Linked DNA regions of Homo sapiens. The protein of the gene in region 4 purifies or fractionates together with the protein of the main gene of each other region. This does not show direct contact. Each region holds a gene or a part of one and is shown on either strand. Other genes may lie near its edges.

Evidence for each region.
Region 1: the proteins of CUEDC2 (region 4) and TBP purify together in Homo sapiens (affinity purification with mass spectrometry; 3 studies listed by BioGRID and IntAct, with this or other methods). This does not show direct contact.
Region 2: the proteins of CUEDC2 (region 4) and GTF2A1 purify together in Homo sapiens (affinity purification with mass spectrometry, with the first as the bait; one large-scale study listed by BioGRID). This does not show direct contact.
Region 3: the proteins of CUEDC2 (region 4) and CREB1 purify together in Homo sapiens (affinity purification with western blotting; one study listed by BioGRID). This does not show direct contact.
Region 5: the proteins of CUEDC2 (region 4) and CDC27 purify together in Homo sapiens (affinity purification with western blotting, with the first as the bait; 2 studies listed by BioGRID). This does not show direct contact.

What each region holds. Positions count from the first base shown.
Region 1 is NC_000006.12:170,563,361-170,569,603, reverse strand, and holds part of TBP (TATA-box-binding protein), read right to left. Parts: intron 5,060-6,243; coding exon 4,972-5,059; intron 2,687-4,971; coding exon 2,595-2,686; intron 1-2,594. UniProt on the Homo sapiens protein: The TFIID basal transcription factor complex plays a major role in the initiation of RNA polymerase II (Pol II)-dependent transcription.
Region 2 is NC_000014.9:81,178,562-81,184,804, forward strand, and holds part of GTF2A1 (transcription initiation factor IIA subunit 1), read right to left. Parts: intron 1,770-6,243; coding exon 1,662-1,769; 3' UTR 1-1,661. UniProt on the Homo sapiens protein: TFIIA is a component of the transcription machinery of RNA polymerase II and plays an important role in transcriptional activation. TFIIA in a complex with TBP mediates transcriptional activity.
Region 3 is NC_000002.12:207,534,635-207,540,877, reverse strand, and holds part of CREB1 (cyclic AMP-responsive element-binding protein 1), read right to left. Parts: intron 1-6,243.
Region 4 is NC_000010.11:102,424,319-102,430,474, forward strand, and holds part of CUEDC2 (CUE domain-containing protein 2), read right to left. Parts: intron 881-6,156; 5' UTR 871-880; coding exon 797-870; intron 475-796; coding exon 331-474; intron 243-330; coding exon 181-242; intron 77-180; coding exon 1-76.
Region 5 is NC_000017.11:47,154,796-47,161,038, reverse strand, and holds part of CDC27 (cell division cycle protein 27 homolog), read left to right. Parts: intron 1-1,040; exon of another isoform or gene 1,041-1,885; intron 1,886-2,735; coding exon 2,736-2,833; intron 2,834-3,654; coding exon 3,655-3,809; intron 3,810-3,914; coding exon 3,915-4,126; intron 4,127-6,174; exon of another isoform or gene 6,175-6,243. UniProt on the Homo sapiens protein: Component of the anaphase promoting complex/cyclosome (APC/C), a cell cycle-regulated E3 ubiquitin ligase that controls progression through mitosis and the G1 phase of the cell cycle.

The DNA.
Region 1 (6,243 bases), on a different chromosome or scaffold from region 4:
AGGAAAAAAGTGAGTTATTCATACTCAGAGCCAGCTAAAATACTTATTTAGACTAATAACTTATAAAAAGTCCAAAACAGTAAACTAATAAAGTGTAAACTGGTCAGCCTTCTTGCAATAGGAGAAAAGACTGACAGGCATTCACAATTCCTTATAAAGTATTCCTGGATCCTTGACAGAAAACTGTAGGCCTGCCAAAATGACCTTTCAATCCGCCAAATTATTGTAGCCCTAGATTTTATGGATGTGAATTATCACCATCATCAGTCATCACTATTTCTGTATTTTAGCCCATGCATTTCTACTGAGAGGAAAACTAACAAACTTCATTTTGATCAGAAAATGTTGATGAGATTTATTATTGAACAATGTATTCACTAATTCTATCCTCTTTTATACCAAGACTCATCATGAATAGACATTCCTATGTCATTTGTTGAATAAACTACGACTTAGCAGTTCAGAGCTTACATAAGAAAAGCAGAATGTGGGCCAGGCATGGTGGCTCACGCCTCTAATCCCAAGCACTTTGGGAGGCCAAGGCGGATAGCTCACCTGAGGTCAAGAGTTCGAGACCAGCTTGGTCAACATGGTGAAACCCTATCTCTACTAAAAATACAAAAATTAGCTGGGCATGGTGCCAGGCACCTGCAATCCCAGCTACTTGGGAGGCTGAGGCAGGAGAATCACTTGAACCTGGGAGGTGGAGGTTGCAGTGAGCCAAGATTGTGCCACTGCACTCCAGCCTAGGTGACTCCACCAAAAAAAAAAAAAAAAAAAAAAAAAAAGAAAAGGAAAGAAAGAAAGAAGAGAAAAAAAGAAAAAATAAAAGAGAAAAAGGCAGGCAGGCAGGTCGGGCACGGTGGCTCACACCTGTAATCCCAACACTTTGGGAGGCTGAGGCAGGCGGATCATGAGGTCAGGAGATTGAGACCATCCTGGCTAACACAGTGAAACCCCATCTCTACTAAAAATACAAAAATTAGCCAGGCATGGTGGTGGGCACCTGTAGTCTCTGCTACTCGGGAGGCTGAGGCAAGAGAATGGCGTGAACCCAGGAGGCGGAGCTTGCAGTGAGCCGAGATCATGCCACTGCACTCCAGCCTGGGCGCAGAGCGAGACTCCATCTCAAAAACAACAACAACAACAAAAAAGAATGTGAAAATATTACCATAAAGAGACTATCAGGTGCAGGGGATCAGGAAGAACAAAAATCAAGCATATATATATATGCTACGCTTTTAAATTTCAGGTAAATGTATTGGTGGTTTCTTGTCTTGATGAAATAGTCATCCAACTACATATACAATATTCAGTTTTCAGATGCTCTGGGACAAAAAGGCTAAATGCTGCATGAAAAGCTTGCCTTGATAAACCAAAAGTTTCTGATGTTCCATGCAGGGGAAAACAAGCAAACAAAAACGCTCTTAATTAAAGAGGTTACTACTGCATGTTGTGGCCAAGGGGAAGTGAAAGGCAAGAACACATCCTTGTCCTGCATTCTGAAAAACCTCGGAGATCAGGAGCCAGAATGTCCACACCAATGGCATTCCCATCACTGAAAGACAATTTCAAACTTCAGAATAAGCAAAAATATCCACAGCCCCCTTCTATGTGTTGATACCTCCAAGTACATTTAATACTCTTTCATTTAAAAAGTTTTAGTTTATTTGTTCAGTTCATTTATGAAGCTAATGTCACTAATTTTCCCCCTAGTTTTTGACTTCTACCAAGTATATAAGCTCTGTTTAGAACAGTCAGGGCCGCAGAGTACTAACCTTCAGACAGGATCACTTCAGATGGAGAATATAGGCAATGACATTTTATAACAAGGGTGCATTCCTTAAGATCTGCACAACTCAAACACTATTAATGAAAGCTAGTTCCAGTGAGAAGGCAGGTTTCTGCAGCCAACACATGTGATGCTGTCACGCTGCCAGGCCCAATAAGGTCTGCAAAGCCCTTACACCATTAGCTTAGAAGTGTTTTAATTCTTGATCAATTTTTTCTTCCATTTCAAGATGTATTTGTGTTATTTACAACATTTTTCACATAAAGGGAATTTTATTAATAGTTCTGATGTTGTATTACATCTTACCTAATTTTTTTCTTTTTTCTGGAGAAAGTGTCTTGTTCTGTCTCCCATGCTGGAGTACAGTAGCATGATCTCAGCTCACTGCAACCTCCACCTCCCGGATTTAAGCGATTCTCGTGCTTCAGCCTCCCAAGTAGCTGGGACTACAGACATCCACTACCACGCCTGGCTAATTTTTGTATTTTTAGTAGAGATGGAGTTTCACCATGTTGGTCAGGCTGGTCTCGAACTCCTGGCCTCAAGTGATTTGCCCGCCTTGGTGAGACACCACGCCTGCCCATATCTAATTTTTAAGAAAATGAAATCACTGCTATCTAACATTAATAGAATCAAATAATAAATAAATAAATAAAAATAATTAATAGAATCATATTAAAATGGTTTTTATAAGAAAGCAATAATAACATGTTAAAGTGCTAACCTAATAACCTAAAAACAATGAGATATCACCTTTTCATTCATAACCCATAGACCAGAAGAATGAATTTCTTACGGCTACCTCTTGGCTCCTGTGCACACCATTTTCCCAGAACTGAAAATCAGTGCCGTGGTTCGTGGCTCTCTTATCCTCATGATTACCGCAGCAAACCGCTACAATGGTCAGAGAGAATCATTAGTGAGGTCATGCCAAACTGCTCAATGTTGTTAGGCGAACCACCCATTGACAAAAAAATCACAACTGGTAGGAAGGACATAGTACATCTAGTTATCAAAATATTTGTTCTGTATTTCTGTATATCTGTAAAGGATTTGCATACACCACATGTAACAAATATTCCTTTGCATAAGGAGCAGAAAATAATCAATTGTGACTAAGTTATACCAAATCTGTATGTTCTTTCACATGAGCATTCCATCAAGAGAAATGTTTGCAAAATTTGGTTATGTTCTCAATAAATACAAGTGCTTCTGTTTCTACTTTATATTTGCTGCTTATCATGACTATAGCTTCTCTGATACATTTTGTTTTATTAATATGAATTTTGAGGCAAATAAACCAATAAACCTTTTCTACCTTAATGGAATTAATAAATCAGATTACAAGCCTATCAATACGTAATGAAGTAAAATCATGCTTTCAATTGGTCTTTAGAAACAATATTAATGTATTAAACACATAAATGCAAATTAGGAAAAAAACACAGTTTTAACTTTTATTTTCTGCTTTTTATGCTTGAAACATGTTAATTCTTTCAGAAAATTTTCTTGCTAAGGTGGTAACTCAAGGGGAAAATATTTCAACTGTGGGTTGAATTAATGGCCTCAGTTATTAGGTACATGATAAAAAGCAAATAATTACTTTGAAACAACTTAAATATTTTAATACATTTAATTATACAATAAAAACCTACATGTTTCTAATTAAGACGACTCTTTGACAAACTAGATTGCTTTAACAATTTTATTTTTTTATTTTATTAATTTTTTTTTTTAGAGACAAGAGTCTCACTTTGTTGCCCAGACTGGAGTGCAGTGGTGCAATCATGGCTCACTGCAGCCTCGAATTCCTGAGCTCAAGAGATCCTTCTGTCTTGGCCTCCCAAGTAGCTGGGATTATAGGTGTGTGCCACCAACCCCAGATAATTTTTTAAATTTTCTGATGAAACAAGGCCTTGCTATGTTGCCCAGGCTCGTCTTGAACTGTTGGCCTCAAGTGATCCTCCCACCTTGGCCTCCCAAAGTGCTGGAATTACAGGTCTGAGTCACCATGCCTGGCTTTTAACAATTTTAGTTTAAAACCTGCTCTATGTCTTCCCTGTGATTTTATCAACATCTAAAAAAGCTAGCAGTATATAGTAGTTTATATACGTCCCAGGAAAAGCCTAGCTATTTTGAATTTCCAGAATTTCCTCTACTATTTTTATTGGTTAAATATCACTTAAGAACGTAAAGTAATAAAATTATGTATTCAACTAAATGTGATTATAATAGATGAAAGATTAATTCTTAGAATGCTACATGTCATACAGACTCATTATGAGTGGTTAAAAGGTGATTTTCAGACCCTTAGCTGTCTTTCAGATCTCAGGCATTATGTTTCAGGGATTTTAAAATGCACCCTAAGTCCATTACTTAACATTTCTCTCAACCCAGCTAATGTTTATCCAAATTACTTTGCCTACTATAGCTGGCTAACATCATCCCTATACATATACAAAATTCTTCACATGATCCCAATACAATACATATATAACTTAGCTTATTTTATAGACTGCTGTACTCCCAGGGATTCTTATATCACAGACACTCAATAAAAGATACAAAACAATGCACATTTTACTTTAGATCTTCATTTTATTGGTGTCAAGGAATAAGCATAACACAAACTCTTTGATATACAGATTTTTTTTTTGAGGCGGAGTCTCGCTCTGTTGCCAGGCTGGAATGCAATGGCGCAATCTCCGCTCACTGCAACCTCTGCCTCCCAGGATCAAGTGATTCTCCTGCCTCAGCCTCCCAAGTAGCCGGGATTACAGGCGCATGCCACCACTCCCGGCAAATTTTTGTATTTTTAGTAGAGACGGGGTTTCACTATGTTGGCCAGGATGGTCTTGAACTCCTGACCTCAGATGATCCGCCCACCTCGGCCTCCCAAAGTGCTGGGATTACACGTGTGAGCCACCAAGCCCGGCCAATTTTTTTTTTTTTTTTAAGAGACAGGGTCTTGCCATGTTGCCTGGGCTGGTGGTGAACTCCTAGGTTCAAGAAATTCTCCTTCCTCAGCCTCCCAAAGTGCTGGGATTACAGGCATTAGCCACTGTGCCTGGCCTGATCTACAGACATTTGTTTTATAGCGTGAAATACATTAAAATATAGAGACACGGCAGAGGAGACAAAAAAGAAAAAAAAAAGAAATACATTAAAATAGATCTAACCTTGGGATTATATTCGGCGTTTCGGGCACGAAGTGCAATGGTCTTTAGGTCAAGTTTACAACCAAGATTCACTGTGGATACAATATTTCTGTAAGAGATTTAAAAAGAAAACACGACTATTTAAATTACTTAAGTTTCATTGGATGAGGCGTTAGAAATTATGCAGACATCTGATTATTTCAACCAGGCTTTACTTTTTTTTAATTGCTCACATTTATTGTTTAACAAGTATCATGCACATGTTGAGCATTTTATATAGATTATTCCATTTAATACATATAACGCACTGAGGTAGAAGTTACCAGTATTCCCACATTTGGATAAATAAGCTGAGGCTTAAAGGTAGAGTGCAACTTGCTCAGGACGCAATGGCTCCCAAGTGGAGGAGCCAGGATTTGAGTCTGTCTGTCTCCAGAGCCTGCCCTTAGCCTTCTCACAGACAAACTCAATTCTCATCTGTGAGCTCTGAAAAGCTACCACCACCACCCTATTCCTAAGTAACTATTTATAATGAAAACAAGCAGGCATGAACTGCCCAGTTCTCTCAAAGTAAGTATCTTTTGAAAAACAAGAGCTAAGTGTCTTTAGCAAAAAAAAAAGGCAAAACCCTGCTTTCTCTTCTAATTAACTCTCAGTAAATAAGGATAAATGGAGCCATCTGGGTCCACTGACCCTTTTCATTTCTCAGTGTTCTTAAATCACTTAACGAATAACTTATACAAGGATAAAGATATACTAAAAAGCAACTCTATTAGAAATTTTAATAAAAATTTAAACAACAAACCCACATTTTCATTATACATTTTTCTGCTTATGAAAGTATATATAGTTGAAATGGGCAATGCCCTTTGAATGCAATTAACTGCTCAACAACTGTCTCGCATGGACCTGGAAATCACCATCCCAAGAATATCGAGTCCAGATTTCAAATACATAGGTTCAAATACAATAGGTTTCAGCTCATTGTTGCTTCTGGTTCTTTTTCTTGTACAGTCTATGATACACAACTGTAAAGCCAATTAGGTTGATCCACACAATGAATGTTTTCATTTCCATATCATCTATTTCCTTCCAATCACCCTTGTATACACACCTGCCTTTAGCATTTGTCCACTTATGAACTATACCAAGTAGATTTTAGTATATCTATCACAACTTTAGTCACATAATTGTTAAATGTATTCTTATATATTTTCATTAATTAAATATTTACCTTAATCCCTCTTAAGCCTACAAGATGGAGAGGGCACTGAACTACCACCCGGGAGGGTT
Region 2 (6,243 bases), on a different chromosome or scaffold from region 4:
GAGATCAAGGTGGTAAGCTGGGTGGGAAGTAGAAAAAAAAAATTTTTGCCTTTTTTTAAAGTTAAAAGATTTGTGTTAAAAAAGAAACACTATATAATAGCTCACAGTTTTCTTCTCTGTAATGTACTTTAAAAAGTGTTCATGTGTTACTTCTGAAAACACAAAGGCAAAAGGAAGACAAAAACTGAAGATTAAAAAAATATATCAATATACAAGTAACCTAAACACATGTAAATTTTGTCAAGATAAACCATGGAAAGTTGAATTCGTTGTAAGAACACAATGGTGAAGACAAGCATTCCTGCAGTTCTCCCAGGCAGTGAATTCACACTGAACACAGCAGTGCCATATTGTTCTTCAGAGCCCCTTACAGAATACAGACCTATGCATTCTTAATATACATATTACATTTCTATTATTTTTAATATACAAGTCAAATTTCTATGCTTTCTTCCCAATGTGCAAACTGGAGCCAACGTCTTTATTTTCAATGGCCTGGAAGGGCCACCAAATGAAAGAGAGGTAACTTAGTGGCCCACCCACCTCTTCCCCCCAAATTTTCCCCTCAAATTACAAAGTTGATTTTAAAAACTTGTTGAATTAGAATAGATTTTTAAAATTCTTTACTAGTAAACACAAGAAACTTTTATAATTACTAAACTGTTTAATAAAAATCCAGGTCCTCACCACCTGCCCTATGCTAATCAATGCACAGACTGTTAACTGAATGTTTAGCTTAAAAACTAAACACATTTATAAGCACACACTTCAGCCCAACAGGAAAAGTCTACATATATTCATGTGTATACAATTTCAGCTAGATGGTATGCTTGCAAAATAAAACTATATTCCTGAGGAGCTAGTTTGGGGTTTCTTTTTAAGGTGTGGCACTAAAAGAAACAAATTAAGTTTTTCTGTAAGGAAATTAAAGTTGTGGTTTCAATTCCACTGAACTCAGACAAGACCCAAGTCTTTAATTACATTTAATAAGTATGAAAACCTAATTAAAATAAATATTCATTCCTGGGTCAAATTTTATCTCCAAACTATGATCACTGATAACTTTAAATCTTAAATAGATGTTTCATAAAGCTGGAAAGGAAGAGGTATATATCACTGAGGGAGAATAGCAAGTAAAAATATTTAAGACCTATTATGAGAGTTTTAAATTGTTTTCTTATACAAGTGAATTAAAATTCAACACAATTCTTACCCTTTTGTAAAAAGCTCACACGCAACTTTTACCAAATATAACCACATACAATAAGCAGTTTCAGTTCAATCTATCAAAAGGGAAGTTTCTTCAGTTCATTCCAACAAGTATCTTCTGATTGAACCCAAGTTGGAGGAAGGAATATAGACAAAGCTTTACATGCTAATTACCGGTGGCAGGTACCTGTATTTAAAATCAACAATTATGGTTTTCCTACACAAAACCCCAACCCTCCCACCCAAAAACCCTAGGTGCTACAGTTCCATGGCTTGCCAGTAAGTAGTGTCTATGTTGTCAAGGTCTATCTTTGTTCCAGTAGCTTTGCTTCTACTGCACTTTTCTGACATGCAGAAACGAAGTTTTGGTTGGCATATGCCCCAAGTTTCAAACTGTCCGCTTTACATTTTTTTTAAGTTTCTTTTATTTATAAAAGAAAAAAAGCAACTCTTCACCATTCTGCATCTCCAATGGCTTTGGAAAATATATAATCTCTTCCATTAAGATTCATAATGCCATCCTTGAGATGAAATTTCCATTTGTTTTTACTTCTGTGTATCTAAACAAAAACAACATTTTAAAAATTGAGAGATACAATCAGAAAACAGAGAAAACAAGTAACAAAAAACCCATACACACACACACGTACACACACACCCCCCCACAAAACAGTATTTACAGTATTGTATTTGCAAATTGGTTTGTTTTTGTAGAAGAAGGGTCTCCTATGTTGTGCAGGCTGGGCTCGAGCTCCTGGCCTCACGTGATCCTTCTATCTCAGCCTCCCAAAGTGTTGGGATTACAAGCGTGAGTCACAGCACCTGGCCTAAAAATTGGTTTCTTAATAAAGTTTAATTTCACCAAAAAGAACAACAACAACAAAAAAACCACACACAAAACTCACTAGGTGGGTCTAAAAACAAATTTATCTGTAATTAGTACTATTTTATAGCTTTTAGTACTTGTGTTCATTAAAGTAGTTAAAAAATATTTCTTTACAAAATGTCTTATCTCTCTACCAGGTTTGCATATATATTTTCAAGGTCTACCTCAAAAAGACTATCCTCCACAAAGCTTTCCCAAATCTTACCAGCTAAAACTATTCTTTTCCACTGTTAAATTCCCAATGGTATTTTCATTGACATTTCTTACATTATTTGTAAGTAATACAATTATGGACTCATTTCTTCTACCAAAATAAAACTCCTTATAGAGTTCTCAAGACCTAACTACCATGGAACCTTATACATAGCAGTATTTTAAAAATACATCTAAAGGATGCTAATCATCCAGTCACTTACACCAGATTTCAAAAACTATGTACATCCACAGTTAAACAAAAAGAGCTGAAGGGCAGGCTCTGGGCACTCCCATCTTTGCCTTCACTTATAGTCCGTAGTTGTTTGTAATTCCATGGATTTGGTGGGGGAGAGGAGTTGTAAAACTTAATGAACTGAAGTGACCTTTCTTCCTTTTCCCAGTAAGTCACACTAATTATTTAATGTTCAAGTTCCACATCTTCTGCAAAGAAGGCCCCCTGGTTCTCCCTATTCTATGATCTAAAGGTACCTAAAAAAAAAAAAAAATCAACTAGTTCAGGCTTTCATTTTCAGAAGAAGAAATGACAGATTGGATAGGGTTCAATGGTTTGACCAAGTGTATACTGCTACTAAGTGACAATCATGATTTTCAAGTCTTGGTCCAGTACGCTTTTACTAAATCAGTCTGTTTCATATAATAATGCAGAAATGCTCAACAGGTATAGATATTTTCTTTTTCTTTTTTTTCTTTGAGACAGAGTCTCACTCTGTTATCCAGGCTGGAGTGCAATGGCACGATCTTGGCTCACTGCAACCTCCCCCTCCCAGGTTCAAGTGATTCTCCTGCCTCAGCCTCCTGAGTAGCTGGGATTACAGGCACTCACCATCACGCCCAGCTAATTTTTGTATTTTTGTAGAGATGGGTTTCACCAGGCTGGCCAGGCTGGTCTTGAACTCTTGACCTCAGGTGATCCCCCACCTCGGCCTCCCAAAGTGCTGGGATTACAGGCGTGAGCCACTGCACCCGGCCAGGTACAGATATTTTCTGAGATCTCATTCCTAAAATTCCATGGCCTAACCTCCCAGTGCAAACATTCTTCATGACATATTCCTGGCAAATGGTTGTGCAGTGTCTGCTTAAATACGATTAGAAACAGTGAGCAAAGAATTTCAAATTAAGTTATTCCTTTTTGGAACAGCTCTCTTGTAAAATCTTTCAGAGTTTACCCTTACGGAAATCTGCTTCTCCAACTTCCATTTATTGATCCTAGCTCTGCTTTTTGAGACTTAAAAAAAAAAAATCACTCAATCAAACAACCTTCATCTTATTTGGAAACTACTCTCATGTTCTTCTTCTGGATTCAAACTTTGCTTACTTATTAAAGCAAAACAAAGCACAATAAAGGTAAAACAGCAGGTAGGGTAAAGACTGTTGGATTAAGAACTAATTATATCTCTGGTCTAAATACACTACATAAATGCTAAATGTAGCATCTTAAGATTGATGACTTGAATGTCTAACGGACATACCAGACTTGGCATGTCCAACCAGCTCCACATGCAGCTTTTCCTCATCTGAACTGATGGTATCACCATCCTTCTTTCAGAATCCTCATCAAAAAATCTCAAGAGTCATTCTTGATTCCTTTTTCTTTTCTACCACAAATCTCAGAGTCAGGAAATGCTGTTAACATTCTTCCTTCAAAACAAATCCAAAATCCAACTACTTCTCACCAACTTTAATACCATCACCATAGGCCGAGTCATCATTATCTCCCATGTGAATTATTATAATATCCCCCTAAATAGTCTCGTTTCAGCAACCTCTGCTTCCTCCTCATATTATGCTCTCTACAAAGAAAGCAAAGTAATCCTTTCAAAATTTAAATCAGTTCATACCATTTGTCTCACTGAAACCTTCCAATAACTTTCTGATTCACTTAAGAGTAAGAGCCATGTCCTTACAAAATCCTTACTATCTGCCTTCCCTTACCTCTCTACCTACTACTGTACTCTCCTCTTCCCTCACTCCAGTCTAGCCACACAGGCCTCCTTGCTGTTCCTCACATACAACAGACTCTGCCACCAGATGACAGGGCTAACTCTTTCCAAGTCTTTGCTAAAATGTCATTTTCTCCAAAGACCTACTATGACTATCCTATTTAAAACTGAAACCAAACCTGTCCTCTTTCCCTGCTCTTTATTTTTCCATACCGACTATCAGCTTCTAACATATAAATATTTTATTATGTTTTAAATAAGTAAATAAATCCTAATTTATTATGTTTTAGCATCTATCTCCCCTGATTGGAGTAAGCTTCCCAATGGCAGGGACTGTTCTGTTTTGATCATTAGTGTATCTCAAGCTCCAAGAATAGTGCCAAGGGACATCATAAACAGTATCTGTTGCACATGAAAAGAGCTGTCTCCCCTTATCTTTGAATTCCTATAAAGTATTATTTATTCTACAAACGTGTATACAAATGTATTTCCAGCATGAACCAAGTGACTGCAACCAGAAAGACCGTGGGCTTAGCTAGACAAAAACAAGAAAGTGATGAGTAGCCAGGAAATAAGAGATTCTATAGACAAGTAAAGAAACTGCCTGCATTCTGTCATAGGACAGGACAATTTGCAAAAAATAAATGTACCAAAGTTTCATGGGCCAACTAATCCACACAGTCAACACTGAAGTCATGTTGGGTAATAAATGGTAAATATTTTTATATTAATAGAAGTACAAAGTCACAACTTAAAAAGCAATCTATTTACCGGCCCTAAGCCCTTCATGAAGGAATATTCTTAAAGCCAGGAGAAAGCCCTCTTAAATTTCCTAATTAAAAATGTGTTAAAGCAAGTTTACCTACATCTGATGCTATTTTCGCTAAATGCTGTATCAGCCCTTATCCACCCACACGTAAGCAAGAACTCTACCATATTATTAGCATTTAACTAAGATTCTGATTTGATTGGCAATACAAGCTTTATTAGTCGTTCTATGATCTCTTCTAAAATTGACTCATTGTTGACATTCTAAAGTTAAGGCTTCAAAACTACATTCCTGAAATTCAAGTTGGCTCAAACAATATCCAACCTCATTTTGCGCAGTCAAAGAAAACTGCTGTTCTTTACTATTGGCTAAAGACATCAAGCCACCACCCTCCTCCAATCTTCAGAGCAATTCATTTGATTCTCAAAATTAGACCTCTGCAAATTTTAAAATTATTTATCATTCAGCACACCATTTAGAGCTATCTCCCACTTACTAATTTAAAACAGTAAAGTAATGTCTCTGGGAGCAAAACAAACCAATTTTAACATTTAAAATATTATGAGTACAGTTTGTGCCAAAGGAGAATACAACCATTGTCTTAAAGTAGGAAGACACTTAAAAGTATATTCTTCAGTCAGGCTAAAACAAAGGTCCTCGCTTGCCTGATAAATCTGACATCTCATCATGAAATTGTGTTCTGGATAATTTGGTTGCAAGGAGATCCTCTGAGACTTCCTAACAATAAAGATTTAATGGTATCTTTTGTTTTAACCTCATAGTCTTGCTCTATGTGTATCTAACAGGAAATTACATTTATTATACTGCACATGGTATATGGTTTTAAGAACAGTCTCTCAGAAGTCATTATGCACAAAAATGAATGCTGTGAAACTCTCAATGACCTTACTGTCTTCATTCTATAACTTCACTGGTAAAACTAGCCTAACTCCACCTTTTTATTAGTAAATAAGATCCATAGTGTTGGCATTCTCCCTATAGATCTGTTTGAAGTAAGCACGGCTACTTATCACATTCATTTCCATAAAAGCAACAGAATTAAGATTTTCTTCATCTATAAAGGAAACTTCATGCAAGGCATGAATTTTACATGTTCATAACTACATCGCCAGGGCCTAGAATAGTGTCTGGTAAATTTCCGCACTCTATAAATGTTGAATAAATAAGCTTTTGTTAGAATTTTTAGCATTTGGTAAAGATCT
Region 3 (6,243 bases), on a different chromosome or scaffold from region 4:
TTACTGTAACTTCATATGCTTTTTAGTTTTTTTAACTTGTCAACTCTTTTGTAATAACACATAGCTTAAAACACAAATAAATTGTACAGCTGTATAAAAATATTTTTTCTCTAAAGGGTTTTTAAGTGAAAGCAAATTTAGTAATAAAGTAAAGCAATAAAAGAATCTAAGGTTTTTTCCTTTTTTTTTTTTTTTTTTTTTTTTTTTTACTTTTTAAACTTTTTTGTTAAACTTTATTTTTTTGACACAGGGTCTCACTATGTCACCCAGGCTGGAGTGCAGTGGCACAGTATCAGCTCACTGCAATCTCTGCCTCTTGGGTTCTCCTGCCTTGGCCTCGTGAGTAGCAGGGATTACAGGCATGCACCACCAAGCCCAGTTAATTAATTTTTGTATTCTCTGTAGAGACAGGATTTCGCCATTTTGCCCAGGCTGCTTGAAACTCCTGGGCTCAAGCAACCCGCCTGACTCAGCCTCCCCAAGTGCTAGGATTACAGGCGTGAGCCACCATTCCCGGCCACTTTTTAAAATTTTTTGTTAAAAAGACATTCACACGTTAGCCTAGGCCTACACAGGGTCAAGATTGTCAACATCACAGCCTTCCACCTCCACAACGTGTCCCACTGGAATGTCTTCAAGGGGCAATCACATGCATGGAGCTGTCATCTCCTATGGTAACAATGCCTTCTTCTGGAATACCTCCTGAAGGACCTATCTGAAGTTCTTAATAGGTTTGCTTACACTAGCACAGGACCACTGTTGTATATGCAATCTGTCATTCACCAAAACGTTCTTATACAGTGCATGACTGTATATCTCTGTCTACACTAAGGAGAAGAATTGGGAGTCAGGAAATCTACATTTCAGCCCAATTTATCATTGTATTCCTGTTTATATCTTACCTTCTCTTACATGAAACTCAAAGCTCCCTGCCTCATACTCAGCATTCCTCAAAATGTAGATCTATAATCTAATACTTTCTTCACCAATTTATGAGTATGTCAAGTTCATTATATGTCCATGTTTTCATTTTTTTGTCCATTCCACTGCCTAGAATACACTCCATTTTATCTGTACTTACTGAAGTTCTTTAGTATTCAACTTGAATTCTACTTCTCCCACAAAACTTTTCCTCACTAAGCCCCTTCTCTTCTGAACTCTGTAGCTCTTCAAGACAGTAAAAACTCTGTCATGTACTCTGGCACATATAAATCATTCTTACACTATTTCATCATCCCTACTATACCGTAAGATTCTTGAGGGTAGGAGCCATATAGTCAGGCTTTATTGCTTATATCAACTAGAACAATCTTCATTTAATACCTAGGTATTTTTATAAATACCTAACTGAATAAATTTTCTTGCGATTATTTCACCAACCATAATAAAGTCAATGGTCAATAAATCTTCACTGAATAAATGATTGATAAATGGCAATACATAAAGTCAAGGTGTCACCATTGATCACAGCAAACAATAGAGCTACTACTGATACTTATTATAAGAAAATGACTCCCCTTTAAGAGTACAAATAGGGCTGGGGGCGGTGGTTCATGCCTGTAATCGGAGGCTGAGGCAGGCAGATCACATAAGGTCAGGAGTTCGAGACCAGCTTGGCCAACATGGTGAAATCCTGTCTCTACTAAAAATACAAAAAAAAAAAAAAAAAATTAGCCAGGTATGGTGGCACATGCTTGTAATCCCAGCTACTTGGGAGGCTGGGGCAGCAGAATCGCTGGAACCCAGGAGGCGGAGGTTGCAGTGAGCCGAGATCACACCACTGCATTCCAGGCTGGGAGACAGAGCGAGATTCCTCTCAAAAAAAAAAAAAAAGAGTACAAATAATTCAGAATAATCTGTAATTTTCACTTCAGTGGTGAAAAACAAGGTATTTCTGTGTCCCCTACTGCCAACTACTTACTTATACCAACAGGGATAACAGCCCTCAAAAATAATGGTTATTTAACCTTGGGTAAATTACAAACATTTTTAGTTACATCTGTACTGTCATACAGTTACAACCAAAAACTCACAAGTAGATAACCAGATCCTTAGAAATTCACTTAAAATTGATGAAAGAAACGTCTTCATTTCAGAGAAGATGCACTAACCTTTGGGAAAAGACACATTCTATCATCATTGGTATAAGTCAACTTTCAGATCCACTCTACTCCTAAACTATTTTATTAATAACTTCCCTTTTAACCCTTTCTTATCTAATCAAATGTCACTTCTCTTCTTTCAGAAAAAACTCACCATCAATTCCTTAGACCTCATCCTCTCAAAACCTCGCCCCTTTTAAGATTATTTTTTAGAGATCCTAGAATCATCCAAGAGGAAGAAAACTGAAAGGGTGTTTTTCATCTTTGTTCACACAGCTAGTCTCACGGTAAACTCCTTTATCACCTTATTTCAACTCTAAGAAAAGGCAACTTAGCATCTGTAAGTTCATCAAGGAGTACTACTGTTTATTTTCTTTTTTAGGAGTTGAGATTATGTACCTAGCTTCAAGAATTTTTTAATACACAGTGATTTTTCATCACTGGAGATGTATAATGCACGTATTAAATTATAGGTAATTATTCATCACTGGAGAAACTGCCTTCTCATCTGTTGGAATAAACGCCAGAATACGTTTTTCTAAGCTAACATCTTTCTGGTAGCCTAGAAGACAAATGAGGAAACATCTGGGCAAAATATAATACAGGGTAAGCATCCCTAATAAAACATCCAAAATCTCAAACTTTTTGAGCACTGACATGATGCCATGAAAAATTCCCACACCTGACCTCATGTAACAGTTCACAGTCAAAACTGTTTCATGCACAAAATTATTAAAAATTTTGTATAAAATTACCTTCAGGCTATGTGTATAATGTGTATATGAAACAAATTTCATGTTTAGACTTGGGTCCCATCCCCAAGATAGCTCATTATGTATGTATATGCAAATATTCTAAAATCTGAAAAAACCCAAAACTGGAAATACTTCTGGTCCCAAGAATTTCAGATAAAAGATTCTCAACCTGTAAAACCTATCTTCATAGGGCCTTGTCTGGCAGAGCTTAAAAAGAGAGAGAGAAAAGGCAAAACAAAAAACAACAACAAAAAAACCCAGTAGATAAGACAAGAGTGTGTATATATTAAGGGGAGTCAGACATTCTGAATGTGAATAAAAACTAACGTCTATTCTTATTTAAGTTTTGTCTCAAAAACCTACATTTACAGATGTGATAAAACCACACCTTCTACTTACAACTTCAACAAGCTGACCAGCATCTGGCTCTTCTATAATGACTAAACTAGCATATATTTAATTGGCAGAGAAAAAACAACCACGTTCACATTATCAGTTTGCTGCTTTAATGATCTTTGCCTCCACCCCAAGAGGCAATCCACTGATGATTCCATGACACTGTGGGAAATCATTTAACTCTGTTAGTCTACAGATATGTTCCAGATAAAAAACGTTCTGCCTTTACAGATTTCAATGATCTACCCCACCCCCATCCCCAAATATGTAAAGACAAGCACTTTGTAGGCCAGGCGCAGTGGCTCACGCCTGTAATCCCACCACTTTGGGAGGCAGAGGTGGGTGGATCACGAGGTCAAGGAGATCGAGACCATCCTGGCCAACATGGTGAAACCCTGTCTCTTTAGCTGGGCATGGTGGCAGGCGCCTGTAATCCCAGCTACTTGGGAGGCTGAGGCAGGGGAATCGCTTTAACCCAGGAGGCGGAGGTTGCAGTGAGCTGAGATCGCACCACTGCACTCCAGCCTGGCAACAGAGAAAGACTCCGTCTCAACAACAACAACAACAACAAAGCACTTTGTAAACATTTTAATCATTTAGCAGGTACAAATAGCACACAGTAATATTTTATTTATGAGATGGCATCTTGCTCTGTCACCCAGAGTGGAGTTCAGTGGGGTGATACTGGCTCACTGCAACCTCCACTTCCAGGGCTCAAGCAATTCTCCTGCCTCAGCCTCCCAAGCAGCTGGGACTACAGGCGTATACAACTATACCCAGATAATTCTTCTATTTTTAGTAGAGATGGGGTTTCACCATCTTGGCCAGGCTGGTCTCAAACTCCTGGCCTCAAGTGATCCGCCCGCCTCGACCTCCCAAAGTGCCGGGATTACAGACGTGAGCCACCACGCCTGGCCAAATAGCACATAGTAATATTTTAAATCAAATATTAGTAAAACCTCAAAACAATATTCTTACATTAAAAACTTTGTATATATGATCAACGCATAAACACCAACTTGGGAATACAAAAAACGAAATATACCATGACAGCTTTTGTTTTTTTCTTAAGACAGAGTTTCGCTCTTGTCGCCCAGCCTGGCGTGCAATGGTGCAATCTCAGCTCACTGCAACCTCTGCCTTCCAGGTCCAAGTGATTATCCTGCCTCAGCCTCCTGAGTAGCTGGGATTGCAGGCGCCTGCCCCCATGCCCAGCTAATTTTTGTATTTTTAGTAGAGACGGGGTTTCACCATGTTGGCCAGGCTGGTCTCGAACTCCTGACCTCAGGTGATCCACCTACCTCAGCCTCCCAAAGTGCTGGGATCACACAGGCGTCAGCCACCGCGACTGGCCCATGACAGCTTTACTTAATGATGTTTTCTGGAAAGAGATTTGTGCCCTTGCTGCTATATTATTAATCACTTTCTGAGTTTAATCAACTCAAAAAAGTCATAGTGTGTACATTTTAAAGATAAATACAAACAGCATGTATATTTAAAATGTACTACAGCATTCGGGCATGGTGGCTCACGCTTGTAATCCCAACTCTTTGGGAGGCTGAGGCAGGTGGATGGCTTGAGCTCATGAGTTTGAGACCAGCCTGGGCAACATGGCGAAACTCTGTCTCTACAAAAAATTAGCCGGGCCTGGTGGTGCGCGCCTGTTGTCCCACTCACTCAGGAAGCTGAAATGGGAGGATGGCTTGAGCCAGGAAACAGAGGTTGCAGTGAGCCAAGTGTGTGCCACTGCACTCCAGCCTGGGTGATAGAGCCAAACCTTGCCTCAAAAAAATAAATAAATAAAAATAAATAAATAAATAAATAAATAAAAAAGTATTGTAGCTCAATGCTGTTTCGAAAAGCTAGAGGAAAAAAAAAAGGTAGTGAAACGCATTTTGTGCTTTGGCTGAAATACGTATTACTTGGTCCAACTGGTTGACCAAAGGTTTCCCCACGGGGGTAAAAAAATCATCTATGCAGTAAAGTTTATCATCTCAGCAATCATATAGGTGAATCTCACTATTTTTAAATTTAGGTACAAAATATAAAACTCACATAATTACATTAAGAAATACTAGAAAATCGTCAAGGTAAGTTAACAAGTATGTAAAAAATAAATGAATGCAGGGAGAAATCTAGTATAGTAATCAGCCTTACTGGGTAATAATATCCCATGAGCTGTCTGTTAAAAAAAACCCAAAAAAACACCGGACTATATGAAATGTTCTTTCTCATTAAGAAAGAAAGCTATAAAAACCTTTTGGGCCAAAATAATAATTGAAAGAAGTAGTCTGTTCAGAACTGTAAGAACCTCAACAAAAGAGTTAAATTCACCTTGTGAGTTAACTCTTAACCTGGCTTGCTTGCCTCCTCATGTACATTTTGATCATTTTACTAAAACTTTTAAAAACTGGAGTTAAACAGGAAATGAGGGACTTTAAATAACAATTTCCTGTCACAAACTATTTATTTTTCATTCAAATAGAAAGTTTTTCATTTAAAGAAATAAAGGCAAGATGGCAGTTTCCCTTAGTTTAAAAGGTAATATAAGACCTAAGAATAAAAGCAGCTCACTAACTGGTTAATACAGTCTACTTACATAATAAAATGCTTCCAATTGTATGTTAAAAAATGAAGAAGCTCTTTATGTGCTGATACAAAATTGCTAAGCCATATTAAGTGGTGGGGGTAAAGCATGATATAGGAGAGCGTATACCTAGTATGCTACCATTTGTACAAAAAGGGGGAGACTGTACATACATATTTGCTCGTGTTTGCATAAAACACCTCTTAAAGGACAAATAAAAAATTGCTAACACTTAGGTAATAGGGCAAGAGAATGTAGGGCATTTTGCTGTTATTATGTTTTGAATTATAGATCATGTGAATGAATTACTTATTCAAAAAACCAAATTAGAAATATAAAAAATATACTCCTCACTTCACCAAAGGTGATCCCTTTTTCCTTTGACTGCTTTCTTTTGACACAT
Region 4 (6,156 bases):
ATTTCGGGCCGCTGCAGGGGCTCTGGGGAGATGGGCACCTGACCTTGGACACCAGAGCTCTGCGGTTGCAGGTTCTCTTAAAGAGGCAAAGAGAGCATCAGGTTTGCCAAGGCTCTGGGGAGCAGGCAGTTGGGGGAGCGGGATTATGAATCACTCAGGTGCCCAGAGCCCCAGACTCACCTTTGTTCCTGGCATCGCTCAGCTGCCCTGAGAGCTTCTGCATCATGTCCCCTATTGTGCCCCTGAAAAGATGAGGGCAGTGAGAGGATGACTCTGCCCACCCCATAATCAGCCAGCCCCTTCCTCCTCCTGGCCCTAGCCAGAACCTACCTGGGGATGTGGGCGAAGCCAGGCACATAGGCCTCCATCATCTCAGTGAAAGCCTCCATATCGAAGTTCTCCTCTGATGGGCCCGAGGGGCCCAGGTCCTCCAGGACCCCAAGCACATAGGAGAAGATGACCTCATCCAAGCCACTGCAGGAAGGGAACAGGACAAGCCCTGGGTAGGACACTGGATGCCTCCAGCACCCCCACCTATCCTGAGACTCCAGCCCTCAGCTTCATGGGGTCTATGAGCTAGACCTTTATCTTTAAGGCCAGAGAGTATAACCCCCTCCCTCAGAGCTATGGTTTCCCATCTGCCCAACAAAGGTGACAGGGACAGGATGAGAGGTAAGGCCTCTCAGCAAATCCTAGTCAGCCCTCCTGCTGTCTTTCCATCAGCCAGTACCCATAGTACTGCCCGGCAGCTCCAGCTCCAGCACTGACATGAGCCTTCCGGGGGACCCGTCTCTACCTGAGGTCGGCCTCCGGGAGGTGTGTCTGGACAAAGGCAAGGAGGGCTGCACTGACGATCCTCTCCAGCTCCATGCTCTCTCTTCTGAAGGGACACAGACAGGATGGCCAGGCCTTCTTCTGCCTGCCCCCACCCACTGGGCCTGGGGGCAGTGGCTCCTCCCTCCTGGCCTGCTATGGAACCATCTGTTGATGCTGCCCTCTCTGTTCCCCCAAGTAGAACCATGCCCCCTCCTCCGCCCATCTCACCTCCTTCAGCCTGAGACAGGACAGGGCACTGTGTCTGGAGACAGCCTCTAGAGGAGGCGCCCCCCCACCTCTCCCCACCCCCCTACCTCTCCCCACCCCCCTACCCCATTCCCCAGCAGCAGTCCCAGACCTTCTGACAAGGTCTTGGGGTCACATGCCTCCTGGCTCAGGAATCCCATCACTGAGGGAGCCCCTTGGCCCCCAAGTCCAATCACAAGGGGCCCCATTGTCCAGCCCCTCAAGGCTCAGCCTCAGGACCAAGCACAGCCCTTCCCCCACCCAGAACAGGCCACCCACCCTCTGCACAAAGGGGCTTTTCTGGCTCTGGGGCCCAGATAGAAGGGGAAGCCTTTCATGGATTCTCTCTTCTCGCCCAGTCCCTGCCCTTCCTGCAGCTTAGGACTATCTGCACAGCACTTTCCATCCTCCTCCCCAAGGCCTGAGGAGCCCACAGATCTGGCCCTCTCCCAGCTCTCCAGCCTCCCCAGTCCCTCCTCCCTAGCTTGCTCCCACCCCACCTTCTGTCCCTCAGACTTGCTGAGCTTCCTCCTGTCTGTGTCCTGCGGGACATCCATGGCTCGTCCAGTCACTCCTCAGGGCTCCGCTCAAATGTTACCTCCTCAGAGAGCCCTTCCCTGACTAACCTATGGCAAGTAAGTCTTCTCCATGCCCCTTAACCCTACATAGCACTTACTACCATTAACATTATTTTGTGCTTATTTGCCTATTGTCTGTCTGCCCCCATAAAATGGAAGCTCCAAAGCAAGGTGGGGATGAGGGGGACACTCTGTCTTATTCATGAGTGTAACCCTAGCACCTAGAAAAATGCCCATACTGGCTAGGTGCTGAATACATACCTGTTGACATGCTCCATTCCCATCTACATGCTTTTGACTCCCAAAAGTCTGTTTGGGAGTCAGGAGCATATGGGTGGTAATGAATGGCTCCAGACCCATAGGTCCAAATGCCAGCTCATCATCCCACTCAGAAGGCTCCGAGGCACCACCAGTTCCACGCACCTCACACTCATCATAGACTACTGATCTGCGCACATCCCCCTCCAAACACACATCTGCTTCATCAGCTGACACCACTCACTCAGCTGCCAAAGCTGAAACCTGGGGATTACCCTTGATTTTGCCCTCTTTCACCCCTACCAGTCAATCACCAAGTCTGTCAATTCTATTTCCTTCTTTCCTTCTTATCTGCATTGTATCCACTTCTCCCTATCCTGAGTCTGGCTTCTGCTCCAAAATCTCCACCAAAATTTCTTCTTTTTCTTTTTTTTAGGCAGGGTCTGGCTCTGTCACCCAGGCTGGAGTGCAGTGGTATGATCTCGGCTCACTGCAACCTCCATCTCCCCAGCTCAAGCCATCCTCCTGCCTTAGCCTCCGGAGTAGCTGGACTACAGGCACACACCACCTACTAGTTTTTTGTTGTTGTTGTTTGTTTGTTTGTTTTAGTAGAGATGCAGTTTTGCCATGTTTTGAGTCCAGGGTTCGAGACCCAGGCTGGTCTCGAACTCCTGGGCTCAAAGCAGTTCGCCCACCTCAGCCTCCCAAAGTGCTGGGATTACAGCCATGAGTCACCGTGCCCGGCCTCAAAATTTCTTAGACTGAGGTCATCAGTTACTTTTTCCAGGTTTTAGTCTAATTAGGTTGAACCATATGAGCTTGCCAATTTTGTCTGGTTTTGATCTACAAAAAAAAAGGGGGGAATTTCTCATGATTTCACCTTCTATTTGCCCTTTCAGCAGCTCCAACTTTGGTTTCTGAGATGCCATTCTTTCCTGGTTTCCTTCTACCTCTCTGGCCATTTCTTCGAAGGCCCTTTCTCTGTCCCCTTCTCTGCTCCCCTCTAAATGTGGGAGTTCCTCACATGCAAGGCTGCCTCTCCTTCTCACTGCAGCGCTCTCTCTCTCTCTGGAAGATCTCATCTGGGCCCACATCTTTATGTACCAATGCCATGTCATCAATTCCCAAATGTCCAGTCCTCTAGTCCAGTCTCCTCTGAGCTACAGGCTTGGACATCTACCTCTCTAACACTGCCACGTGTATGTTTTACAGGCATCTCACAGTTAGCGTGTCCCAAACTAATGTTCTCTCAAGTGCTTTACTCCTCCAAGGCCATTCTCAGTAAATGCATGTCCAGGCACCCGGCTGTTCCTGCCACAAATCTGGGAAATATCCTTGACACCATCCTACCCCTTGCTCTCCCTCATCCAATCAGTCGCCAAGCCCTAATCATTATCTCTTGCCACATCTATTTCTCTCCATCTCTACTCCCACTTTTCTCCATCTCTTGCCTGCAAGAACTTCCTAACCCTTCTCCCCACTCCATCTTCCCCCCAACAACCTATTCTCCACACCACAGCTGTGTGATCTTTACAAAAAAATCACATCTTTTCCTGCTTAAAATCTATCAATGCCTTCCTGCTACCCTTCAGGGAAGTCCAGAATCTTTTCATGGCTTTCCATTGCCGTCCTTACCCTGTCTATATCTCTCTCCAGCTTCACCATGCACCATACCTTCCTGGATCATTTCCCTCCCTCCACCCTGGCTTTGTTTTTTGTTTGTTTGTTTGTTTTGTTTTGTTTTTGAGACAGCCTCACTCTGTTGCCCAGGCTAGAGTGCAGTGGTGCCATCTTGGCTCACTGCAACCTCTGCCTCCTGGGTTCAAGCGATTCTCCTGCCTCAGCCTCCCGAGTAACTGGGATTACAGACATGTGCACCACACCTGGCTAATTTTTGTATTTCTAGTAGAGACAGGGTTTCACCATGTTGGCCAGGCAGGTCTTGAACTCCTGACCTCAGGTGATCCACCTGCCTTGGCCTCCCAAAGTGCTGGGATTACAGGCATGACAAAGCACCCGGCCCCACCCTGGCTTTCTTTCAGTTTGCTAACACTCAAACTCTTTCATGGCAAGGTAGTATACCCTCTGAGCCTTCTGCCTCATCATCTGAGTGGGACAATGAGCTGCCATTTGGACCTATGGGTCTGGAGCCATTCATTACCACCCACATGCTCCTGACTCCCAAACAGACTTTTGGGAGTTAAAAGCATGTAGATGGGAATGGAACATGTCAACAAGTATGTATTGAGCACCTAGCCAGCACGGGCATTTTTCTAGGTGCTAGGGTACACAAACTATTTCCTCTGCCTGGGCACCCTTCTGCCTCCACCCCTTCACTTACTGTCACTCTGATCTTTTGGGTCTCATTTTAAAATTCCCTTCCTTGGCTGGGCACGGTGCCTCATGCCTGTAATTCCAGCACTTTGGGAGGCTGAGGCAAGAGGATCGTTTGAGCTCAGGAGTTTAAGACCAGCCTCGGCAACATATCAAGACCCCATCTCTCTTTTTGTAGAAAAATATTTTTAGGCCAGGCACGGAGGCTCATGCCTGTAATCCCAGCACTTTGGGAGACCCAGGGGGTTGGATCACGAGGTCAGGAGATCAAGACCATCTTGGCTAACACAGTGAAACCCCGTCTCTACTAAAAATACAAAAATTAGCTGGGTGTGGTGGCACGCGCCTGTAGTCCCAGCTACTCAGGAGGCTGAGGCAGGAGAATGACATGAACCTGGGAGGCGGAGGTTGCAGTGAGCCGAGATTGCACCACTGCACTCCAGCCTGGACGACAGAGTGAGACTTTGTCTCAAAAAAAAAAAAAAAAGAAAAGAAAAATATTTTCAAATAAAAATAAAATAATTCCCTTCTTCCTCAAGGGACATCACCCCTGACCTAGAACTCATTTGGGCCCTGCCATATTACACTCTCTATGCAGGCTGCAAGTTTTCTGACTAGCAGCACCTTTCACAGCCATAATTATTATTTGGACAATGTTTAATGTTTCTTCCAGTTGTCTCATGAAGCAGGGACTAAACACCGGGCTGACATTCACCAGTGTATACTCAGCATCTCTCATGAAGTGGGCACTCAATAAACAGTTGAACCCCAATTTACCTATGAAGAAATGAAGTTCAGTGTGTTTAATGACTTGCCCAGAGTCACCTGGCTTGACTGCGGTAGTCAGATTTAAATCCAGGTCACCTAGTTCAGCATCTATTCTAGGGGCTACTCTGGGGAAGGGAGGATATCAAGACTTTCAAGTGGGTTGGGACAGGGCTACCTTCTATGCTTACAGTTGCCTGGTCCCGAGTGGTAACAGAGTTGCTCATAGCACAGGGGTCACTTTGGAAAGCAGGACTGAGAAGCCCCAGCCTACCAGGGGAATTCATACCACCTGCGCCAGAGCCCTCATGGGCCCTGAGGAAGAGCAGAATGGCTCAGCCCAGGCATACTAGATCCCATCATGCAGCTCCCTCAGGGTAGAACCGCCTCCAGGGACCTACCTCGACCCTGGGTTACATCACCCTCGAATCCTGGGCTGTCAGTTGCATGGTAGCCTCTGCCGGGACAAAGGCCCATGGCTGCTGCATGAAAGCCCAGTTTCTTTCTTTTTTTTTTTTTTTGAGACGGAGTTTCGCTCTTGTTGCCCAGGCTGGAGTGCAATGGTGTGAACCTGACAGGGTCAAGCAATTCTCCTGCCTCAGCCTCCTGAGTAGCTGGGATTACAGGCGCCTGCCACAACGCCCAGCTAATTTTTTGTATTTTTGGTAGAGACGGGGTTTCACCATGTTGGCCAGGCTGGTCTCGAACTCCTGACCTCAGGTGATCTGCCCACCTTGGCCTCCCAAAGTGCTGGGATTACAGGCATGAGCCACCTGTGTGGTGGTGACTGAAACTTGGCTGAAAGCCCAGGTTTTCTTTTTTTTTTTTTAATTTTATTTATTTATTTATTTATTTATTTATTTTACTTTTGAGACAGAGTTTCACTCTTGTTGCCCAGGCTAGAGTGCAATGGCGCGATCTTGGCTCACCGCAACCTCCACCTCCTGGGTTCAAGCGATTCTCCTGCCTCAGCCCTCCTGAGTAGCTGGGATTACAAGCATGTGCCACCATGCTCGGCTAATTTTGTATTTTTAGTAGAGACAGGGTTTCTCCATGTTGGTCAGGCTGGTCTCGAACTCCCGACCTCAGGTGATCTGCCCGCCTAGGCCTCCCAAAGTGCTGGGATTATAGGCGTGAGCCACCGTGCCCGGCCTGAGAG
Region 5 (6,243 bases), on a different chromosome or scaffold from region 4:
ATCTTAGATACAGACTTTGATAAAACTTATTTATGTTTTCCAAAAGTCTGCATCCTACTTCTGCTTCCTACTTTGTCCATTTGTTTATTGGCTTAAATTACACAAGTGTGGGAAGCTAGATATCCTTCAACTGGTAGTACTTTCTTTGTCATATCACTTATTTCTAGTTTTTACTCACTTGAAAATTTGGCAGTGAGGCAAACTAATATCTGGTTCCCCAAGGGTACCTTCTTCATAGTTCTCTGAGGTTATACTGACATTCCGCACATAAACAGATGATGTATACATTTTACCTGATAGTTTCAGTTGAGGATCTCGGTTAGATTTCTTCTGGTCCTTTATATATAAAACCTTAGAATTTTGGAAGAATTGCTGTTCTGAATTTTTTTCCATTTGATATTGAAGCATTTGAACTTCAGACCAGGTAAGTTGTATTTTTTACCTGAATGCTTTAATTGGTCTCACTAGCCACTAACCCCTTCCATCCTCCTATTTAAAAGCTAAGGAGGAGGCGACCAGGTGCTGTGGCTCACGCCTGTAATCCCAACACTTTGGGAGGCTGAAGCGGGTGGATCACTTGAGTCCAGGAGTTCAAAAACAGCCTGGCCAACCTGGTGAAACCCTATCTCTACTAAAATATAAAAATTAGCTGGCATGGTGGTGTGCACCTGTAATCCCAGCTACTCGGGAGGCTGAGGCATGAGAATCACTTGAATCCAGAAGGTGGAGGTTGCAGTGAGCCGAGATCATGCCACTGCACTCCAGCCTGGGCAACAGGGCCAGACTCTCAGGAAAAAAAAAAAAAAAAAAAGCTAGAGAGGCAGCAATGCTGTTCTGATAATCCCCAGATTTTTCCAAGTATATATGTTCCCAGGGATATTGTCCAGATTCCATATGTAAGCGTTTATACACCTGATTTAGAAAGAAACATAAATTTTCCTTTTCATTAAGGAAGCAGATCCTCCACAAACAGATCTTGAGGGGAGAGGGGAGGAAAAAGACCTACCACCTCTAGTTTGTTTGAAAAAAAAAAAAAAGAAGCAGAGGTTTCAGCAGTGGCATCCAGGGCTGGGGTCGCAGCCGTGGATGGGGCCGGGACCGAGGCCACGGAGCTCGTGGAGGCAAGGCCAAGGATAAGGAGTAGATTCCCATCACCAAGCTGGGGCTCCTGGTCAAGGACATGAAGATCAAGTCCCTGGAGGAGATCTATCTCTTCTCCCTGCCCATCAGGGAATCTGAGATCATTGACTTTTTCCTGGGGGCCTCTCTCAAGCACAAGGTTTTGAAGATTATGCCGGTGCAGAAGCAGACCCGTGCCAGCCAGGGCACCAGGTTCGAGGCGTTTGTTGCCATCGAGGACTACAATGGCCACGTCGGTCTGGGTGTTAAATGCTCCAAGGAGGTGGCCACTGCCATCTGCAGGGCCATCAACATCCTGGCCAAACTCTCGATTGTCCCCGTGCGCAGAGGCTACTGGGGGAACAAGATTGGCAAGCCCTACGCCGTCCCTTGCAAGGTGACAGGCCACTGCGGCTCTGTGCTGGTGCGCCTCGTCGCACCCCCAGGAGCACGGGCATCGTCTTGGCACGTGTGCCCAAGAAGCTGCTCATGATGACTGGTATCGATGACTGCTACACCTCAGCCAGGGGCTGCACTGCCACCCTGGGCAACTTCACCAAGGCCACCTTTGATGCCATCTCTAAGACCTACAACTACCTGACCCCGGACCTCTGGAAGGAGACTGTATTCACCAAGTCTCCCTATCGGGAATTCACTGACCACCTCGTCAAGACCCACACTAGAGTCTCCGTACAGAGGACCCGGGCTCCAGCTGTGGCTACAACATAGGGTTTTTACACAAGAAAAATAAAGTGAATTAAGCCTGGAAAAAAAACAACAACAAATAAAAACCTGGTCATTTATGCTATATTTAAAGCATTTAAATCACTTTCAGAATTACCACTGGGAATGTTGTATTAAAAATTAAGGCCAAGCGTGGTGGATCACGCCTGTAATTCCAGCATTTTGGGAGGCTGTGGTGGGCAGATCACTTGAGCTCATGAGTTCGAGACCTGCCTGGGCAATATGGCAAAACCCCATCTCGACGAAAATACAAAAAGGCCAGGTGCGGTGGCTCACACCTGTAATCCCAGCATTTTGGAAGGCCAAGACAGGTAAATCACCAGAGCTCATGAGTTCAAGACCCGCCTGGGCATCAATGGTGAAGCCTGGTCTCTACAAAATATGCAAAAATTAGCCGGATATGGTGGTGCGCACCTATAGTCTCAGCTGTTCAGGAGGCTGAGGTAGGAGGATGGCTTTAGCGTAGGAAGTAGGGGTTGCAGTGAGCCAAGATCATGCCACTGCACTTCAGCCTGTATGATAGAGCCAGACCTTGTCCAAAAAAAAAAAAAAAAATTAAGAATAATACTGAAGGATTTGGATGTTTTTCACATCTCCCTCAATAACTCTAGTATCTGACAGGAAGTTTAAAGTAATAGTAATATTCAAGAAGGCAACGATAGTTTGTTTTGTAAGCATTTCTTTTGATTCATGTTCTGTGCGCTTTCACTTGATTTGGAGATTAGCAGATGGGAGAAATTGGTAACTTAGAGAAGCATCACAAAGAGTGCTCTCTGAACTTCTGTAACTTTTACCTAATTTTTTATACTAAAAGTTTATGATACAGGTTTTGGGGTTTGTAGCTTATTTAATCTACTTGTTTCTCTCCACAGCAAGACAGATCGGCTTGCCAAAGGATCAGAATGTTACCAAAAGAGCCTTAGTTTAAATCCTTTCCTCTGGTCTCCCTTTGAATCATTATGTGAAATAGGTAGGTGGGTGGGGTTGAGAGGTGGGTGGGTTCCCATCTCCTCTTCTTTTTTTCCTGCTACTTAATTTTTGGAGAGCAATACAGATCATCTACCCCCAAGAAAAATATTTTTCAAAGTTAAAATTGAGAATAAAAAATAAGTTAGAATCTTCGGTATGTTTCAAGAATCATATAACTGAAAATTACACAAAGATTAAATCCAGTAGATTCTTCTGTTGAACCAATCTATTTTCAAGTATCTGGTGTCCTCTAGAATGGGTTATATTGTGTGTTTAACACTAGCAAAATTGCTTTCTGAATAAGAAAATTAATAAAATTTCTAATGCAATTAATAAATGCCTGAAACTTACAAGACCTGAACAGTACAGGGAGAGAATTTCTCAGTATATTTGGCCTAGGATACATAAAGGACCATTTTTCAGCATTGTTGCATCTATGTATATATAGAAGGGCTTCAACCTTTACTGTAAAATATGATGGGTTTTAACTCTTCAACCTCATCTCCTACTTTGAGAAAAATGAGATCTAGTTATTTTCAGCTTTAAAACAAACACAGAAATCTGCATTTTTCTGCGATTTGTTATGTTTAAAATTAGTGTTCTTGTAGTTTATTTTCATTTACAGCTTTATCTTACTGGTAAACTTTTATGATATATTGATAGATGGGTTTTTTGGGGGTAAATTTGATTAGCAGAAGTGGACAGGAGATTTTTAAAGTTTGGATAAGGCCTATTTCCTGTTTCCACTGATTTATGCATACTTGAAAAACATGTATTCCTCACTTCCTCAGAGACAAACTTTTTTTTTTTTTGTCTTCACAGGTGAAAAGCCAGATCCTGACCAAACATTTAAATTCACATCTTTACAGAACTTTAGCAACTGTCTGCCCAACTCTTGCACAACACAAGTACCTAATCATAGTTTATCTCACAGACAGCCTGAGACAGTTCTTACGGAAACACCCCAGGACACAATTGTAAGTGTCTTATATTCTAGTGTTCAAAATATTATGAAAACTACAAAGAATGATCTGAACTAAATAATATATTGTGAATGACTTGGTAGAAATTTTCTGTTTCAGGAATTAAACAGATTGAATTTAGAATCTTCCAATTCAAAGTACTCCTTGAATACAGATTCCTCAGTGTCTTATATTGATTCAGCTGTAATTTCACCTGATACTGTCCCACTGGGAACAGGAACTTCCATATTATCTAAACAGGTTCAAAATAAACCAAAAACTGGTCGAAGTTTATTAGGAGGACCAGCAGCTCTTAGTCCATTAACCCCAAGGTAAGTCAAACAAGATACTTTCAAATGTGCTATAATACCAAATGATCTTATGATAACTCATATTGTTAGTAATGCAGATTATTACAACAGCAACTTCTAAATCACTGTGGAAACAGGGGCATTCTGTTTTCAGAAAATGAAGTAAAAACTGGCAAATAGTGATGTTGCCAGGTGCGGTGGCTCATGCCTGTAATCCCAGCACCTTGGGAGGCCAAGGCAGGCAGATCACCTGAGGTCAGGAGTTCAAGAACAGCCTGGCCAACATGGTGAAACCCTGTCTCTACTAAAAATACAAAAATTAGCTGGGCATGGTGGCGGGCGCCTGTAATCCCAGCTACTCAGGAGGCTGAGACAGGAGAATTGCTTGAACCCGGGAGGCGGAGGTTGTAGTGAGCCGAGATGGAGCCACTACACTCCATCCTGGGCGACAGACCAAGACTCCAACTCAAAAAAAATTGATATTGAATATTGGACTGGCCAGGCGCAGTGGCTCACGCCTGTAATCCCAGCACTTTGGGAGACCAAGGTGGGCAGATCACGAGGTCAGGAGATCGAGACCATCCTGGCCAACATGGCGAAACCCCGTCTCTACTAAAAATACAAAAAACTAGCCGGGTGTGGTGGCACGCGCCTGTAGATCCAGCTACTCGGGAGGCTGAGGCAAGAGAATCACTTGAACCCGGGAGACAGAGGTTGCAGTGAGCCGAGATGGTGTCACTGCACTCCAGCCTGGGAGACAGGGCAAGACTCCATCTCAAAAAAAAAATTGGAGGAAAATTTAAAACTCTGAAATATTCCTTAATTAGGTAGTAAACACATTAAAAAATACTGTCTTTATGGCTGTGCATTAATGGATAGCGGTGAGCCTCATGAAATGTTATAATCAGGGCACCACTGGTTACTGTTAAAGTGCCTTTTTCCAAAACATGGAGGAAATTTGACACCTACCTTTTTTTGTTTGAGACAGGATCTCACTCTGTCACCCAGGTTAGAGTGCAGTGGCACAATCATAGCTCACTGCAGCCTCAAATTCTTGGGCTCAAGCGATCCTCCCACCTCAGACTCCTGAGTAGCTGGGACTGCAGGCACATGCCACCACACCTGGCTAATTTTTTAAGTGTTTTTGTAGAGATGGGGTCTTGCTGTGTTGCCCAAGCTGATCTGGAACTCCTGGCCTCTAGTGATCCTCCTGCTGTGGCCTCCCAAAGTGCTAGGATTACCGTGAGCCACTGAACCTAGCTGTCACACCTATTAATATAAAATATTTTATCAAAATTATTAGAAGTATATGTATGTATAAATACAGGAACTCAGCCCAGAGGATACATATCCAAAAGTATCAAAATGAAAAATTATGTGCTAGAATGGGTTGGGCATGGGGGCTCATGCCTGTAATCCCAGCACTTTGGGAGGCTGAGGTGGGCAGATCACTTGAGACCAGGAGCTCAAGACCAGTCTGGCCAACATGGTGAAACCCTATCTCTACTAAAATTACAAAAATTAGCCCGGCATGGTGACACATACGTGTAATCCCAGGTACTTTGGGGGTTGAGGCACAAGAATCATTTGAACCCAGCAGGTGGAGGTTGCAGTGAGCTGAGATCATGCCACTGCACTCCAGCCTGGGCAACAGAGCGAGACTCTGTCTCAAAAAAATATATACATATATGCTAGAAGAAATTCTATGAATCAGGTCCTGAGGCCGGGGAACTACTAAAATAGCATGACCATGAGATTACAACTCTGGAGAGTTATAGTTATCTAATGGTCTCTAGAGACATTTTCTCTGTAGTTGTGTCTAAATCCCATAAATTCCAAGAATTTGAAGTAATCTCATCATTTGGATCTTAGATTTATAAAGCTACTCTTCTTTATTTCTAATAAATCTCCTGAGATCAGTAATTGTTGCTCAGTTTAGTTCCTTGTTTGATAGCTTTTTAAAATTTTAGTTATGGTGGGTGGAATAGTCTACATTCACAGCTTATTTTTAATCTGCCCCTCAGATCCTCACTGTCCCTAAGACTGATTTGCCATTCTCTTCCTTTTAGACCTTCTAATTTAAGTATACTGCTGCTTTATATATGCCTTGATGACTTTTTGACACCTTGATTTCAACC